Homo sapiens: one gene and its partner. The protein of the gene in region 2 interacts with the protein of the main gene of each other region in a biochemical or structural test. Each region holds a gene or a part of one and is shown on either strand. Other genes may lie near its edges.

Region 1 (9,258 bases), on a different chromosome or scaffold from region 2:
GCGGAGGGCAGGGCTGAGCCGAGGCGCGGTCGGGCCATGGCTCGCGTGGACCGGGAGCCCTGCCGCGCCCCCGGGGCCTCAGTCCGGGCTCCAGGACAGCAGGAGGGGACGACCGGGTCCTGCACGCGGGCCGGGGCGGGCCGGGAGTCGGTAGCCACCGCGCGTCCCGCCCCCAAGAGGTGCTGCGCGGCTTCCGCCCGCCAGAGGGCGCCGGAGGCCGCTCCCGGGACCCACGCGCAACAGCGCGGGTACCCGCCCAGTTCAGGGCCCGCCGTCTTCTCGCAGACTTGCCCGAAAACCTCCCGGCGGCGTCTCGACGCCCCAAGTGCCCACAGACACGCCGCGCCCTGCACCCCTCCCCAGCCCTGCTTGGGGCTGACCTCCCCCGTGCGTGCGTGCGTGCGTGCGCGCGTTTGTGTGTGCGCGTCCGTGCGGGTGTGTGTGTGTAATGTGTGTGTGTGTAATGCCTGCGTGTGTGCGCGTGTATACATGCGTGTATGCGTGTGTGTGTACGTGTGTGCATGCATTGGGTATGTGCGTGTGCGCGGGTGTGTGCATGTGTGTTTGGTGGACTCTTTCCCAAGACATTCGGGGGACCGGAGGAGGGCAGAGCCCACCTTTTCTGAAGTCCAGCCTGCCTGTCCCCTAGGAGGCTTAGGGTGGACAGAAGGGAAGGGAAGGGAAAGGAAGGGTGCAGGCTGCCGGAGTACTGGAGGTCCCTGCAAAACTTGGAAGCCCCCGCCAGCCTGCTGAATAAACGCCGGCCACCCATGCGCTGCCCTGCAGCCCTCAGGTGGCCCTGCCCTCAGAGACAGGGGTGGGGGTGGGATGGGACCCATCTCCCACGTGCTTCTGTGGACATTCCCTTGCCCTCTGAGCATCCTCACCAGCTCTGACCCACAGGATTGGAGGGACTGGGAGCTCCTGCCAGCCGGGCCTCCCTCCCATGTGGCTACTCCAGGGACTGCGGGGGTCTCCCGAGCTCCGCTCTGTGGGCCACCCACCTCCATGACCCCAGTAGAATCCCAACAGGCAAGCCCAGCGGAGCAGGACATGGGGCCTGGAAAGGTTCCAGGGTAGGACTGGTCAGGCCAAGCCCCTGCACATTAGAACATTAGAAGCTGGAGGCCCCAACCCCACCCCACCCCACCCGCCACCAGCCCTCCCTTAGGCTCTCCTGGCTGAGAGACCTCCTCCACTTCCTGTCCAGGCCCTGGTCCTGTTGTGGGGCCTGGACCACTGGCACCTGGGGAGGAGGGGCAGGCCCACAGCTGGGAACAGGAGAGCCTTTCATCCCAGGGAAAGGGGGCAGCTCCAGGCCCCCCAGCTCTACCAGTGCATCCCTCAGTCCTTGCTGCCAGAAAGCCTCCTCACTGGCCCCAGCCTTCCATGGCCCTGACCTGCAGGAAGCCTCTAGGCTGAGTCCCACCCAGTTTCCAACTGAGGGTCCACACCTCGAAGCCCAGCACCCACCCAGACAGGCTGGCATCTCAGGCCCAGGGCATCTCCAGGAAGACAGACAGCCCTGGGCCTAGGCCTCAGGCTAGGAGGTGTCTAACAGAGTGTGTGGCTCTCAGACTGCCTGCCTCAGTTTCCCCATTGGTAAGGCACAGCCTCTGGGGAGGCCCAGGTCAGGAGGGCAAGAATCTCACTCTCAGCGTTCAACCCACCTGCCCTGCCACCCACTGGGGCCCAGTCAGGGCCTGTGGATTCCCTGGGGGAGCCTCAAGGAAGGGGCCGTACCTGCCACCCCCTTTCTCTGGTCCCCAAGTGACAAAAGATACTCCCAGGGCTTCCTGAGCCATATGACACAGCTGCGCCCATCTCCTCCCAATGCCTGAGCCTCTCTGGCACTTCCATTCTTAGAATCACCCGAGTCAGCTCTGGGAGCAGCAGCCAGGGCCAAGAGATCACCGGTGCTGCCTGTGAGGAGGTGGGGGCACAGAGCGTAGTGACGGAACTCCCCCAATGCCTCTACAGCCCCCTTTCAAAGAGCAAAAAGAATGCTTGGACAGGCTGAGGCTCAGCAACGGTGGTAGCAGGGAAGCTGCCATGTGCTTCCAGCTCCCCCAGACCCACTGGTCACCCAGACACCTGGCCTGGCTCCTGCTCCGGGGCTCCCTTCCTTGGCCACACAGTGCCTTCTTCCTCTGGGCTTGGAGGCCTGGGAGGCCTGGGATGGGGTGAGGTGGACTCCCGGTTGACCTCAAACGATGGGCACCTCAGCAGGAGGGGGTCCCCACCCTGCAGTAATGGGCAAGAGAACCTGGCTGCACCCAACAGCAGTGGCTGGAGCCCAGGGTCTCAGAGTGCCCTTGGGTCAAGCTGGGGACACCTGCAGGCACAGGAGAAGCCTCAGGGGCCTGGCCTCCTGGCTTTCCCAGCCTCAGTTCCTTCCATTTCCCTCAAACAGTAGCCTGACGCATGTGTCCCTGCATCTCAGGCTTTGTCTGACCTGCTGTGATGGGGAGGCAGCTCCCAGCCTGGCTCCCCAAGGGGCCCCTCCCAGAGAGCCTCATCCACCTCTGGGTGGGGTGTGTCCCTTCCAGGAGAATGGCACTGGTCAGCCAGTGACTCCCCCAGCTCCTGGCCCCCCTGCCCGCCCTCCTGCCCTGCCTGCTGCACCCTGGGCCAGGACTCTGGAGTTCCACTCAGCATCCATGGCTCCTGAGAAACTCCATCCCTGATGGGGGCTGCCAGTGCCACCCTGGTGCCAGAATTGGGCTCTTCTTTTTTCCTCCAAAGATGGCTGAGCTCAAGCCAGAGAGGACACCAGCAGGCTTTCCCCAGCCCCCCCAGCCCACCTGGTTGTCAGCCCCCGCCCCACCCCAGGGGCCTCACAGCATTGTTTAACCCTGAGCTCGGCTGGGTTTCACCCAGGTGCCTAGACCAGCCTCCTGTCCAGTCTTGCTTTCCTGGAGGGTGGGGCCAACCCTTTTGAGAAGCCACAAGCCTATTTGTACCCACAGGGTCCCAGGACCCATCTGGGCACCCAGAATGACTCAGACCAGACCCTGGGGGTTCCCAATCTGGGGAAGAGTCCCTGTTGCAGACCTGAACACTCAAATTTGTGTATGGGGAGGGAAAGGGGCATGAAGGTGCAGGGGAGGTGGGTGGTGACCACAGGCCCTCTGCTGTAGGGCTGTTCAGGGACTGTGCTGGCTGATGGAGCCTGACTCCCCTCCCCCAGCGTGGCCTGCCACGACCATGGCCTCACCCAGGACCCCCAGCTCATGGCCTACAGGCCAGGTCAGCAGGAGATGCTGGCACTGGCCCTGTGGGAGGGGGACACTCTGCCCATCCCCCCATCCTGGGGAGGGGCGCAGGGTCCCTGCTGTGCGGGTCCGGGGACCAGGGCCCCCACTCCTCTCCTCTGAAGCCCCAGGCGCGGCGGCACTGCCCGGCTGACAATCGGTGATCGCGACAGGGCTGGGTGAGGGCCGGCGGGGGCGGGGTCGCGCCTGGGCGCCCAAGGCGCTAGTGTCACAATGGGTGACAGCCGGCCGGGTCTCCCGGCGGGGGAGCGGCGCTGCGCACGTACCTGCTTGTCCTCTGCGGGGTCGGGGTCGGGGTCGAGTCCGGGTCCGGTTCCGAGCGGGTCCGGGCCGGCGGGCGGGGGAGAGACGGAGAGACACGGTGAGAGGCGCGCGGGCGGCGGGGACAAAGGCGCGCGCGGGCACGCGGGCAGGCGCTGGGCTCACCTGGGGTCGCCAGCTTGCTCTTGTACCGCAGGCCTGTGCTCATGGTGGCCGCCGGCGGGGGACGTGCGGGGCGGGCTCGCGGGCGGGGCGCGACGACAAGCGGCGGAGGCCGAGGCCGGGCTGCGGGGTGAGCGGCCCCTCCGCGCCGCCGCCGCCGCCGCCCGCTCCGCCCGCGCGCCCGGCAGCCAATCGGCGCCCGCCGCGCCCACGCGCGACCCAGGGCGGCCCGGGGGGGCGGGGACCCAGGTCCCCCACCATGGACCCGAGACCACGGCCTCGGGGCGACGCCCTCGCCTCCTACAGCCCTGGCCGCGCCCGGGGTCACCCGACCAGACCCGCGCCGCCCCCGCCCTGCACGGCTGTTCCTGCCGGCCTCCTCCCCGCCACCTCCCCGGTGCCGCAGCCCAGGCCCAGCCTTACGCTCCCCCCGCCCTCGCTGGGACCCGGGTCCATGCCGGTCCTCGGACCATCCGTCCGGTGGCCCTTCTCTAAAGCCTGCCCTGGCTTTCCGGGCCAGACCCTGCACGCTCCGCCCCACCCCGCCGAGGTCAGCAGGGATGGTCCTGGCGCGGCTGGCCAGTGCCCAGCATTGCCCCTGCTGACCGCTCGGTGCTGCGCAGACCTGCTCTGCGAGCAGACGCACCTGGCAGGCTGTAGGCCACAGGCTTTTGGGCAGTGGTCCGGCCTCTCTCTTCCTGGGCTGTAAAATGGGATTATTTGTGAAGAGGAGTGATCTGAGGTGTCTGGCAGGACCGGCCCTGACCGTCTCACCCCAGCTCTGCGCCTGCTTCTCTGCTGACCCATAGGCTGTGGGGATGCTCCAGGCAGACCCGATCCCACCCTGCGGAGAAGGCTTGTAGGGGACCGAGGGGCACTGTGAAGGCAGGGCCAGGGCCTGCACCCCATTTACAGAGGGGGAAGTTCAGGCCCTAATCTTCAGTGAGTCAGCCAGACTCAGTGACTGAGAGCAAGTCTCTCCGGTCATTTGTGTCACTATCACATTCCCAGGTGTCCTCCGCCTGGACTTTCCCAAAGTGTCCCCAGGCGGCATCTCTGAAGGCTTTGGGGCTGTCAGGCTTGCGGTCACCACCTCCCCAGGTGAGGGCCCCCTTGTATGGAGATGTCTCCTGCACCCCGTATAGACAGTACCTCCACAGCCAGGGAATCCGCCTCTGCTCCCCACCCGTCCTGTGCCCCTTGGTCCCTCTGCTGGCCCGTGGGCTCCCTGGGTGGAGGGGGGTGTCGCTAGGGCCTTTCCATCTCTGAATCACCAGCACCCAGCACGGTAAGTGAAAAATTCATGTAAGCCGCGTCTTTGTTCCACAGTCCTTGCTCTGCTGCATTCTGTGGCCAGAGCGCCGTTGACCATAACCCTGCTCTGGGTCTAGAACTCTAACCAGTGTAGGGATCCCCCACAGTCCCAACCTCTCATCCAAGATGTGTTTGGAACTCAGGCTTTTTTGTATACATCATACATTATGTGGCACCTCTTTGGAACCTGGGGCTGCTCCTCATAATCAGACCCATTTATATTTTCGGGGCAAAACATATGTATTCAGGTGAACTGGAAGAAATAAAGACAGTAAGTGATGGCGCATCGTTCAGGTCCAGCTTTGCCACTGAGTTTTGAAAAACCTTTATGTTTCTGAGCTTTGGAGAATTTGGAATTTCGATAAAGAAATGTGTGTTGAGGTCAGGAGATCAAGACCATCCTGGCTAACACGGTGAAACCCCGTCTATTAAAAATACAAAAAATTAGCTAGGCATGGTGGCACATGCCTGTAGTCCCAGCTATTCAGGAGACTGAGGCAGGAGAATCACTTGAACTCAGAAGGCGGAGGTTGCAGTGAGCCGAGATCGCACCACTGCACTCCACTCCAGCCTGAGCCAAAGAGCCAGACTCCGTCTCAAAAAAAAAAAAAAAAAAAAAAAAAAAAGAATGTGTGTGTGGGGGTAGGGGCACTCAAAGGGCCAGGCAGGACTTCTGAGCATAGACAGGACTTTTTGGAAAGAATTGGAAAATGATGGTTGGCTGTTCACCACGTGCTGACCCATGCAAGCCTGTGCTTGTGGAGACAAAGGAGGAGAGACAGGAGCCCTGCCCAGGGGGAGGCAGGCAGCCTGTGAAAGGCACCAGCTCAGCGCCCCTCCCCATGGCTCAGGTGGCAGGGCAGCTCTGGACAGCCTTGGGTTAGGGGGTTTGAACTTGGCCTTGAGACAAGTGCATAGCAGGTCAAGGGCATAGCTCAAAGGGTGGGAGGCACATGTATACAGGAGTAATAGGTTTTAAAACAAATCTGGAGATAGAAGACAAGAAAGATGAGGAATACGGCATAAACATGATCTTTTTTAAAAAAGTCTGTCCCAAAAGATTACTTACAGAAATGCAGTTAGATTGGAGACCAGTGTTTAAGGGACAGCCAGCCTGGAGGCTGATGGAATATATAGGACTGGGAGCCACTCCTTGGAAGAGTGAAGTCAAGGGTGGTCCTGGGTCAGCGCCTCATGTAAAATGCCTGGGCTGGAAGGGGGAAGCGGCATCTGCTCCCTTACTCTGGGACTTTGGTCACCATGACTGTGAGTGCAGGGACAGCCCGAGTCCCTCCACAGACACATCGAGGCTGCACCCTGTCTAGCTGGGAGGCCTGCTGGATGGCATAGTGTCTGCATGGGACATTTCTGAAGTCAGGAAAATGGGTCATGAGGGCATCGGTCAGCAGACGCGTCTCCAGTTCTGCCAGGTGAGGCTTTGAGATACTGGCCACCACAATGGAGGCTGACAGCCCAGTGAAACCCTTATTATGCTCCTGTTCACCAAAAAGCCAACCAGGCAGGCCTGGTGGCTCACGCCTATCATTGTAGCACTTTCGGTGGCCAAGGTGGGAGGATGACTTGAGGCCAAGAGTTTGAGACCAGTCTGGGCAAGAATGTGAGACCCCGTTTCTATAAAAATTAAAAATTAAAAAAAAAAAACTGGCTGTGGTGGCATGAGTCTGTAGTCTCAGCTACTCAGGAGGCTGAGGCCAGAGGCTCACTTGAGCCTGGGAGTTTGAGGCTGCATGCAGTGAGCCGTGATGGTGCCACTGCACTCCAGCCTGGGCAACAGAGTGAGACCTTGTCTCAAAAAAAATGAAAAAACAAACAAACAACACCCAAGCCTTGGGGCTGTGGCTGATATCAGGGGGGCTGGAGCCACAGGGCAGTGGTCTGAACACACACACTTACCTCTCCAAGATGCCATGGCTTGAAAGAAAACTGCCTGCCAAAGTGGGTGTGTGCATCCACTTTCCCCAGCAGGCAGAGGAAGCGCTGGCTGTGGTACAAAAAGAAGTAAATAAAGCACTCCTTTGTGGAAAAAAAAATGCTATTTTTTAATTCATAAGGAAAAGAAGTTAATGAATAAAAAAATAAGCTACACCAAGAAAAATCTGTTCAACCAACTTGGGCTACAAATAGCTTGACTCTTTTCAGAAAAAGCCTCTTAGTGAAGAAATTCTCCAGAGGCTGCATTTGAACCATGCTGGGCCTCCCTCAGCACACAGGGGAGTGAGCGCCCCAGGGCTGGGACCCGGAGAAGGATGGAGCTGGTGGGGAGGTGGCAACGGTGATGGCGACGAAAGAATAAGGCACCTGCCATTGGCCCTTGGGAGCAGGTCTTGTGGGTGACAGGCTTCAGAGGGGGAGCAGTTTGCTCCAGGTGACACATGTCGCCACACTCCCAAGCCTGTCATCTGCAGTTAGGGCTGAGGCCACCACTGACAGGTTCCAGATGGCTCAGTCCATCTGAGGCTGAGGATGAGGGAAGAGGCCAAGATGCATGCAGGGTGTCAGGCACCTGAGAGCCCCACAGGCCTACCTGCATGATCAACTCGGGCAACCCTGACCTGTGCTGGGAATGGGGTGTTTTTTCACCCTGAGTAGACGCAGGAAGTGGAGGTCAGGGCGCGGTGGAGATCTGCTTGAGACTAAACAGCCGAGACTAGAACCCACGACCGTGGAGCCCAGGCCTGACTCCTGCAAAGTGCTGTGACCTGGTCGCGGCCCAGCCAGGGGCTGTCCCAATCAGGCAGCTGCTCGAGGCCTGAGCTCACATCCCTTCTATCCCCTGAATTCACCAGCAACCTGGTGGGTCCCAGATGATCCTCCTGACCCCTGCATTTTTCTACTGCTCTCATGCTCCTGTCCCTGCTGTTCCTGAAGCCCTCGCCCGCCAACCCTGTGAGATTTGAACCCACCCCCAGTACCTGGGGGCTCCGAGGGAGGCCGTGTGACCTGCAGCTTCATGCCCCTGCACCTTGGCACTAGTGTGCCCCCTGCCTGGGCTGCCCTTCTCTAGCTCTGCCGACCCAGCAGCACTGTCTCCAGCCCCTCCAGGCCCACCGTGCCCTATGCTGGCCTCTCTTCTGCAGGACATGGCCTGCCAGGCAGCAGACTCCCGACTGGCTCCCTGGCCCCCACACTCAGCCCCTGTCTGGCACCTGGGAAGCTCAGCAGCATCAGCTCCTGCTGGGTGGGGGCACAGGCTCCTAGGCGTGGATTCACAGGGCGGGCAAGGAGGGCCTGACTAAAGAGCCAGGCTCTGGGGAGCTTCAGACTGCATATTCTGAATCCCAAAACCTCTACTGTCTGCAGAGGGGTGCTTGTGTGCTCAGCCCAGCTCAGGGGGGTGTGCGGAGACCAGGAGGTTCTGGGGCGTCCTCCCTGCTCCCAAAGGCAGTGGCTGTCACCGAGCACAAGGGGAAGTGTGTGCACAGTGAGGATTCTACTGAAGAATGTTTTCCTTGATCTCCTTTTCAGAAAAATGTAAGGGGGTCACTGCACAAATCAGTCCTCATCACCGATGGGAAGACATGCCCATTAGAAGAGCACAGAACCCACAGCAGCTGTCTCTGCCTGGAGGGTGCGGCCTGGTCCTGCTTAAAGCCGCCTATGTCTTGCAGCGGTGGACAGAATAGGGCTTCAAGGGGGCTGAGTCTCAGTCCACACCAAGTCCCCGATTCCCTGGGCAGCTGGAGTGAGTGCTACAAAGGGCGCCTGTGCTCCACGGCAGGGAGCCAGCCTGGATCCAGAGCTGAGGGTCTGAGGGAGGTGGGTCTGCAGCCACATCTGATGGGCCTTCAGAGTCCCCTGAAGGATCTGGGACGGCGCCTGCAAGATAACACAGAGAGCAGCCCAGGGTAGGGACCAGGCGTGCAGTGTGACTCAGCTGGGAAGAGCTCCCCACGGTAGGGGGCGGAGGGGAACCCTCCACAGGGATGCTGCCTGAGGGGGCTGCACGGGACCATCCCCAGGCTGTCCCGGCAGGCAGAGGTCCTCACTGCAGTTCTGTGATTTTATGAGAAGCTGAAGGTGGAAGAATAGCAGATGAATGAAGAGATGTGAAATGGCACCAATGTTGATATTCTCCTGTGTCATGCATGGAAGCATGACAAACATCCCACGGGAGCAAGCGCTTGCGAAAGGCAGAGAGCAGGGCCAGAGCACGGTGACCTAGATCCTGCGGCTCACCCCACCCCTCCATCACAAAGAGCTCAGCGCTGGGCTCCAGGGACTGGCT
Region 2 (8,727 bases):
TTATAGCAGCTTTATTCATACTTGCCAAAACTTGGAAGCAATAAAGATGTCCTTCAGTAGATAAATGTATAAATGAACTGTGATATATCCAGACAATGGCACATTAGCCATGCTAAAAAGAAATGAGCTAGCAGGTCATGAAAAGACATGAAGGGCACTTAAATGCATATGACTACGTGAAAGAAGCCAATCTGAAAAGACTACACATGTATGATTCAACTATATGACATTCTGGAAAGGGCAAAACTATGGCGATAGTAAAAAGAAATGGTAGCCAGGGGTTAGGGAGGAGGGTGGAGGGAGGGGTGAACAGGTGTGAAGAGGTGAAGCACAGAAGATTTTGAGGGCAATAAATCTACTCTGTATAAGACTATAATGGTGGATACATGTTATACATTTGTCCAAGCCCACAGAATGTACCACACCAAGAGTGAACCCTACTGTAAACTATGGATGCTGGGTGATTATGATGTGTCAGCCTAAGTTCATCAATTGTAACAAATGTACTGCTCTGGTGGGTAATCGTGCCAATTGGGGAGGCTGTGTATGTGTGGGGGAAGTGGGTATATGGGATATCTTTGCACTTCCCTCTAAATTTTACCGTGAACTTAAAACTACCTTAAATTATAGTCTTGAATGAACGAATGAATGAATGAACAAATTAAACTAAAATAAATGCAACACTTTAACATTTAGAGAGTGTACTTCCTAAAGCCCAAATGAGCATGGCAGTGGCAACATATTCGCATTACAATTTTTTCTAATAACCAATGAGTGCTTACTTTCATGAATCCTTCACTTTTCAATTTGTGCAGTTTGGAGGCTGCATTATGGAGGCGTTTTCTTTGGGAATTCAGGAGCGAGTCCAGCACTTGCCACCATGTACGACAGTTCAACACAAAGGCCAATCCCACTACAGATGCGATTGATATGAGGACAGCATTTACAGTCAGATGCTTTGGGTCAACTCTAAATATAGCCAGAAGAGTAATTCCAGATATAATGCAGCCAATGATAAAAAGGAAGATGACAAAAGATGGGAGACAACATGTTTTTTTCCATTTCTTTTTACCTGTAATGCAACAAATGGTTTTAATAATTAACATATCAAGGATCTAGAAAATCCTAACATTATAGTCACAATACCTGATGAGTCTAATGTTCAAGGTGTGTTTTCATGAAAATAAACTGAACATCTATCCCACCCCCATCCCTTACACACAAAGAAGGAAGGAAGGAAATCCTACCCTGAGTATCTTCAGTCTTGAATACTCGAAAAAGCCTGGTTGCCAAAAAGCCAAACTCTCTTTCACAAGCATCCGAGAGGGTTGCAATCATTTCAGCCAGAGAAGTTTCTCCACCTACACTGGACAGTCTATTGTAATCTGTAAACAAAAACCTTGAAGAAAAGAACAAATCAAACATTACTTTATTATCTAAAGTAACAAATAACTTCAATGTATGTCATCTTTGCATCACTTACCCTTTATTTTCTTTTTGTCTCTTTCAAAATATTGTTTTTTAAATTCCAAGGAGGGAAAAGAATTTGTAATTAGGTAGCTTCCACTTCTAAAATCTTACATACTTTTCTTAGGAAAAAACAGTAACAAAAGTGAAATGTGCAGGGCCATATAAAGTAATTCTGACTAAGGACAGGCGGGGGAAAGTTACGCCAGAACTTAGATGTGGAGTATCAAGACACCCCAACAGATCTCACGACATAGTGGTTAAAAGGTGACACACGTGTCATGATGTGGCCACCAAGAGTTGCACAAGAAAGTTTTCTAACACCAACGAAAGAGACTCTAACCCTGAAAAAATATTAATTACAGTCATTAAAGAATTTCAAGCCCAGTAATACCATTTAAAAACTCAAGTTTTAGCATGGCTTATTTTATTTATAGCTTCCACGTCTACCAGGGATTGAGAAATAGTTGTAAAATATTCTCTTCACAATTGATCTTCAAAATTAAGTGAATTATTTGTATTCAGAGTCTCTGAATCATTATTATTTCTGTTAGTTCCTTTCTCCCTTCCATCTCTAAATTAAACTCTCATCTCAGTCCAGTAGATAAGCATTGCTCTCAGAATACAATCTGTAATATACTGTGTGGTCTTGACGATGCTACTTTAATTGTTCTAACTGAAAAAAAAAAATACCACCTCATTAATTTAGACTGGTTTCCTTATTTTCTGTAAAAATATTCCCCCAATTATTTTATTCTGTTTTCCTTTTAACTTTTTCACTTTTAAATCCTTTTCTTAATACTTAATTCTCTATGCTAGTTACTTAAAAGTTTTTACCTTTATTTTTCTCTTATACTCAGTTTTAATATTTTACCTGGTTTGGCTTATTTATTTTCATCTTAAATTACACTTATTTTTTCTTATAACTAAAAAATTTTCATCTTTTAATGCTTTTTTTTTTTGAGCAGGGTCTCACTTTGTCACCTAGGCTGCAGTGCGGTGGCGTGATCTTGGCTCACTGTACCCTCAACCCCCGAAGCTTAAGCAGTCCTCCCACTTCAGCCTCCCAAGCAGCTAGAACTACAGGCACGCACCACCACACCCAGCTAATTTTTCTATTTTTTGTAGAGATGGGGTTTTGCCTTTACCCAGGCTTGTTTTGAACTCCTGAGCTCAAGCAATTGACCACTTTGGCCTCCCACAGTGCTGGGATTACAGGTGTGAGCCACCACATCTGGCTTAATACATTTTAAATTCTTACATTGCTTACTTCCATTGAATTTCTTTTGCTTTTAACTTTCTAGCTTTTTTTTTTTTTCATTTCACTGTCCTCTGGAGCCCTCTACCTTTCCTTTATTCCTGGACTTAAACATTTTTCATCTTTTCTTTTTTCTCATAAATTTCCTACTTAATATGAATAATAATTTTAGACAGACATGTGAATATATTTCCTGAGCTGAGAAAAGCACAGCTCAGAGAGGGGAGCTGGGTTTCCCCAGGTTAACCGCTCACATAAGGAAGGGCCAGGTCTCCAGCGGGAAGCTCTCTGGGGACCAAGGCCAGTGGCTGGACCCCTCCTCCATCCAGTGCTCTCTTCAAAGTGTGTTCCAAAAGATGGTAACAGGTGACATAACAGGGAGAAAAGGTTTATGCTTAAATAAAATTTGGTAAATAAAAGTTAAACAGGTTTCTTTATGGAAAGGTGCCTCTGATCCTTTAACGTACAGGAGGGATATATAATCTGAAGTGTTTCCCACGGTATTTGACCAGGGCATGTTTTTATTTCTGTATGTAAAAGGTTCCAATGTTTTTTGGAACATACATTGAGAAATTATATTCTATAAACTTTTTTTTTTTTTTGAGACAGAGTTTCGTTCTTGTCGCCCAGGCTGGAGTGCAATGGCGCGATCCTGGCTCACTGCAACCTCTGCCTCCCAGGTTCAAGCGATTCTCCTGCTTCATCCTTCCAAGTAGCTAGGACTACAGGCATGCGCCATGACGCCCCCGCTAATTTTGTATTTTTAGTAGAGATGGGGTTTCACCATGTTGGCCAGGCTGGTCTCGAACTCCTGACCTCAGGTGATCTGCCCACCTTGGCCTCCCAAAGTGCTGGGATTACAAGCGTGAGCCACCACACCCGGCTCCTATAAACTTTCCGAAGTGAAAAATATTTTTTTCTGAATCTCATTGAAGATTTCTTCTGTCAAATGGTACAACTCACCTCACAGGTAAAGCTTTAGTAGTCTGCTCTGGCAACTCAGGTGGATTCACAAACATCAATTTAAGGAGGAGTTCCAAATATCCAATATGTCTTGCCAATCTAGTGCTGAGGACCCAGGCCCAATTCCAACTCTCTCCTTCTCTTCGTCCACCAAAGTAAATGACAACTGAAATTCACAGTTTAAAAAAGTTATCCAAAGCAGTCACTAGTCAAGCAGATCTTTTCTCCAAAGATCAAGTATCAAGTAATGAGAGCTAAGCTTACATAGCTTCCTATGGTCCCATACTATTTCCTAACTACTCCTCAAAGAATTCCATTAACCTCCCCTAAGATACAGAAGATATGAAAAATGAAAAGTAAACTGACTAAAACATGCCTTAAACAGAAACATAACTGCAGTTCAGATTCAAATGCAAATCATCTTGGGTTTATCACTATTCGCAACTGGTGAAGTTGGTTATCAGTTCCTCTAACAGTAAATCTATTTCCTTTCTTGCAACTGAAGACACCCCCAAGAATAGGGATTATATTATATTTTTTTTATTTTGCTTTTAGATAAAATTAAAAGTACAGACATGGTCAAAATGCTCAAGAGCATACCAATGATGGCTTTGAAGCCTTCTTTTCAGAAAAAGAATTTTTTTTTTTTTTTTTTTTTTGAGATGGAGTCTCGCTCTGTTGCCCAGGCTGGAGAGCAGTGGCGCCATCTCGGCTCACTGCAACCTCCCCCTCCCAGGTTCACGCCATTCTCCTGCCTCAGCCTCCCGAGTAGCTGGGACTACAGGCGCCCGCCATCTTGCCCGGCTAATTTTTTTGTATATTTAGTAGAGACGGGGTTTCACCATGTCAGCCAGGATGGTCTCGATCTCCTGACCTTACGATCTGCCCGCCTTGGGCTCCCAAAGTGCTGGGATTACAGGCGTGAGAGCCACCGCACCCGGCCCAGAAAAAGATTTAAATATAAATCATTAATTAACAAAAAGAGTAAGTATAATAATATAGGTTCTTGCTTCAAGATTAACAAGTAGTACATTAGTTTATAAGCTACTTCAGCCAAGTTGTGAGCAATGTTCCTTTAGGAAAATTTATGGAGTAGCAAAAAGATCAATTTTCTCACCCAATTATGAAAATCACATACAGGTTTTAAAAGACAGATAAAGAAAATGTTTTTTCTTTATCTATGAATCTTAACGTTTTCTCCATTTTTGAAAAAGATAAAAAGCAAAGACTTACTAAAGAATATATATAAGAGAGCCAAGAAGCTCAGTGACACTGCTATTCCAAGATTTGGGTGGACCGTGAAGGCAAACAATAAACCAAGCCCTCCACAAAGTAGCAGGGTAAGAAACACTATGAGCCATGAGAACTGAAAGAGAGGCTCAATCTGTTGTCCGGCGAAGGTTTTCATTTCGTCTGAAAGAGAATTTAATACGAAACCTTATTCCTGTTTTGTTTAAGAAATACAACTTTTAACTCAATATGCAGTTTTCACATTTTCAATGTAAACATTTATTGGACACTTAGTAGGTCCCTAGATGGAATACTGCCACTTAACCATTTTACCCAGTGTTCTCTTGCCAAAGATGAACATCTCACCCCCAGGACCACAGCTAGGCCTGACTCGCCACCCTCTCCTGCTTCACGTGGAGGATGTACAAAACCCCTTCTCATATACTCCCATCTGTCAAGATTTTCTTGAGATTTGTTTTTTGTGGTTTGCATTAACACAAACAACAAATATTATGCATATGCATATTGTTTCCACATGCAAAAATAAAAACTATACCCTATATCTTCAAACTACATATCACCACCATTCCACTGTGATCCTTCTCATCCCTTCTCCCTCCAATCACATTTGAGAATACTGTTCTTAAAGGTGCATGTTGAGCCCAATGGAGTCCCACACAAGTAATTCTTTGTACAAAACTTGGGGAAAATTTTATAGGCAATACTGAAACCTATCCTTGAAGAATAAGTAAGCTTTTGCCAAGCAAAAGGCATGCATGTTGGGTGGGTGGTAGTGAGGCCACTAAGGAGCTGCTAATAGAGGGAGCAACCTGGGAAACACATCTGGTCTGTTCTTGCAAGAGCAAACAGTCCTCTGTGACTGAAGCTGGGGCACATGCCAGAGGTGGTGCTGGCAGGTGGGACCATGCAAATTGACAAGTCTGTGAAGGGCCCGAAAAAAACTTGCCAGCAAGGGTTTTATGTGGGGTTATCACACAATTGGATCTGCTTTAGAAAGAGAACTCAAATGACCGTGTGAAGGACCAACCAGAGGGGAGTTCATCTCAGTAAACCACATAACACACATGCTTATACAGAAAGTGGTCTTCCTCTTTATTTCAGAAAAATCCCCAGAGAAAACCTTGCTTTATATATACAGACTTTGTACAAGCAAGCCCTTTACCTTCTAGTTTCTTGAGTAAGAAAGATTTCCCACTTCCCCACTGTGCATATAACCCCACACAAATGGGTGGCTGCATGGTAGGCTCACTGAGAATATCTGCCAGGGCACTGCTATATAAATCATATCCAAGCATGTCACCGTCTGTTTCAGTAGGAGACAAGTGTCCTGTAATTAAAACACATCATATCTTACATTAAACAGTGGCATTACTATTAGAAATGAACACTATTTTCATTGTTTCCTTGATTAGAGAGAAAAAAATTATTTCAAATGTTTATACCCATGTAGGGACAGTTTCAGGGAGTCTCTGAGCCTATTCTGACTTGGAAGGCTACCTGATTTAAAATTCAGAGATTCTTAAATTACTATCGTATTTCATAAAAAGTTTCAGATATTCTTAAATTACTATCATATTTCATAGAACTTGATACTTATTAATTATATGATACATCATTTTTATGTATAACTAAGAAAGAACAAAATGTTGCCAAATTGTGACATCATGCTTTCTTGTCCATCACTTACAAGACACATTCCAATTTCAGAGATGTTAAATTATGGGAACATTGTGCATTTTAGAATCGATAAAATATGATTAACACAAATAAGCATATAAAATAAATTTAGTACGTGTAATACCTATACAAAGAAAGTTGTAAAATGTTACTGAAGAACATAATAGATAATAATAGAAAAAGAAACATTTTATGATTCCAGGAAGAAAGGTTCAGCAATTCTCCCAAATTATTCTATCACTTTAAGGCAGTTCTAATTAAAATCCATGAGAATTTTGTTTTAATTGAAAGGAAAGAAGAATGTGTAAGAATAGAAAAAAAAATTAAAGACTACTGAAGGGTAGTTGCCACTGGAGAAGAATAAAAATGTAAAACAATAATTTGAACATTCTGGAACTCATATAGGATATTAACATAAGTGGCATTTCAAATAAGGCAGGAAAGGATGAATTAGTAAGTGGTGTTGGGAAAGTTTAATCATTCATGAAAAAATTAAATTAAAATGCTATATACCTCATAGCCTCAACAAAATTTTCTGAAACATTAAAAAATTAAGTAGAAAAAAGTAAAACCATAGAAGTACTAGAAGGAAATATAGGAAAAACTTTAAAAATCTTTGTTTAAAAAGGCCTTTCTTTTGCAATGTAATACTAAGGCCAGAACTGCAGGAAAAGACTAATGAATAAACTACAAAAATGTAAAACTTTTGAATGAGGAATAAAAATCCATGACCATCAACCAAGAGTATGCCGGGGGAGAGGAATGCAGCACATGGGATAGACCCAGGATCAATATCCATAACACAGAAAGACTCTTACATCAATTTTTTTAAAATATTAAAAACTAAAAAGTGGGCAAAGGATACAAAAAGGAAACTGGCAAGAATACAAATAGCCTATGAACATATTACACATTATCTAAGCCAAAAGGCTGAGAAGCAATAGCCTATGAATATATTACAAGATCTCAATTTCACTAATAATTTTAAAACACAAATTGAAATGAGATTTTCTTTTCTTATTTATCTGATTAGCAAAGAGTAAGAGGCTGGAAATACCCAGTGCTAGCAAGCTTGTGGGGAATTGTGGTATCTTACACTGCCAGAGGGAGAAGAAATTTTTACAACCATTTTGGAAAGTCTATCAAAACTATGGGCATCCACTGACTTGGCAATTCTACTTCTGGGAATTTACCCTAAGAAAATAATCCTAATTGTACCCCCTGAATCTCTAATAATATTTTCAAAAGAAAGAAAAAAAATCCTAAAAATAAGAGTCAATGGATATACGTACAAAGGTGTTCACTGCAGCACTAGTTGTTAGCAAAACAAACTAAATATTCACCAATAGCGAACTCAATGTACGAAAAATTATGCAATAATTAAAATATGACACTTTAAGCTTTTGTAACATATTATAACTCAATTTTTATTTTTTAAAACTATATACATAGTATGTAACATTTTTATAAGCATAAAGAAAAGCCTGGAGGGTCATTTAAACAATTACAAGTTGGGATATAGGGGGTAATGGGGAATTTTCACTTTCTGCTATACTCATGTTTTCATTCTTGAAATGTAATTAGTGCACATTACTATTATAATAAGAAAAAATATTTTAAAATACAAAAAGTCATAAAAAAATAGAATCATGGCCAGGCACAGTGGCTCATGTCTGTAATCCCAGCACTTTGGGAGGCCAAGGTGGGAGGATCACTCAGCCCCAGACTAGGGAACATGGCAAGACCTCGTCTCTACAAAAAAAGAAAAAAAATCAGCTGGGTGTGGTAGCATGGGCCTGTAGTTCCAAGTACTCAGGAGGCTGAGGTGGGAGCATCGCTTAAGCCCAGGAATTTGAGGTTGCAGTGAGCTATGATTGCATCACTGTACTCCAGCCTGGGCAACAGAGTGAGACCCAGTGCAGTGGTGTGATCTTGGCTCACTGCAATCTCCATCTCCCTGGCTCAAGAGATCCTCCCACCTCAGCCTCCCAAGAAGCTAGGACTACAAGCACACCACCACGCTCAGCTAATTTTTTAATCTTTTTGTGGAGATGAGGTCTCACTATACTGCCCAGGCTTGTCTCAAACTCCTGGGGTCAAGCAATCCTCCC

The links.
Region 1: the proteins of KIDINS220 (region 2) and SEPTIN5 form a complex in vitro, tested with the Homo sapiens proteins (one study listed by BioGRID).

The regions. Positions count from the first base shown.
Region 1 is NC_000022.11:19,709,075-19,718,332, reverse strand, and holds the start of SEPTIN5 (septin-5), read right to left. Parts: upstream 3,831-9,258; 5' UTR 3,745-3,830; coding exon 3,702-3,744; intron 3,637-3,701; exon of another isoform or gene 3,553-3,636; coding exon 3,542-3,552; exon of another isoform or gene 3,538-3,541; intron 1,114-3,537; exon of another isoform or gene 1-1,113. UniProt on the Homo sapiens protein: Filament-forming cytoskeletal GTPase. May play a role in cytokinesis. May play a role in platelet secretion.
Region 2 is NC_000002.12:8,784,959-8,793,685, forward strand, and holds part of KIDINS220 (kinase D-interacting substrate of 220 kDa), read right to left. Parts: intron 6,267-8,727; coding exon 6,102-6,266; intron 5,102-6,101; coding exon 4,922-5,101; intron 3,855-4,921; coding exon 3,689-3,854; intron 1,400-3,688; coding exon 1,248-1,399; intron 1,073-1,247; coding exon 783-1,072; intron 1-782. UniProt on the Homo sapiens protein: Promotes a prolonged MAP-kinase signaling by neurotrophins through activation of a Rap1-dependent mechanism. Provides a docking site for the CRKL-C3G complex, resulting in Rap1-dependent sustained ERK activation.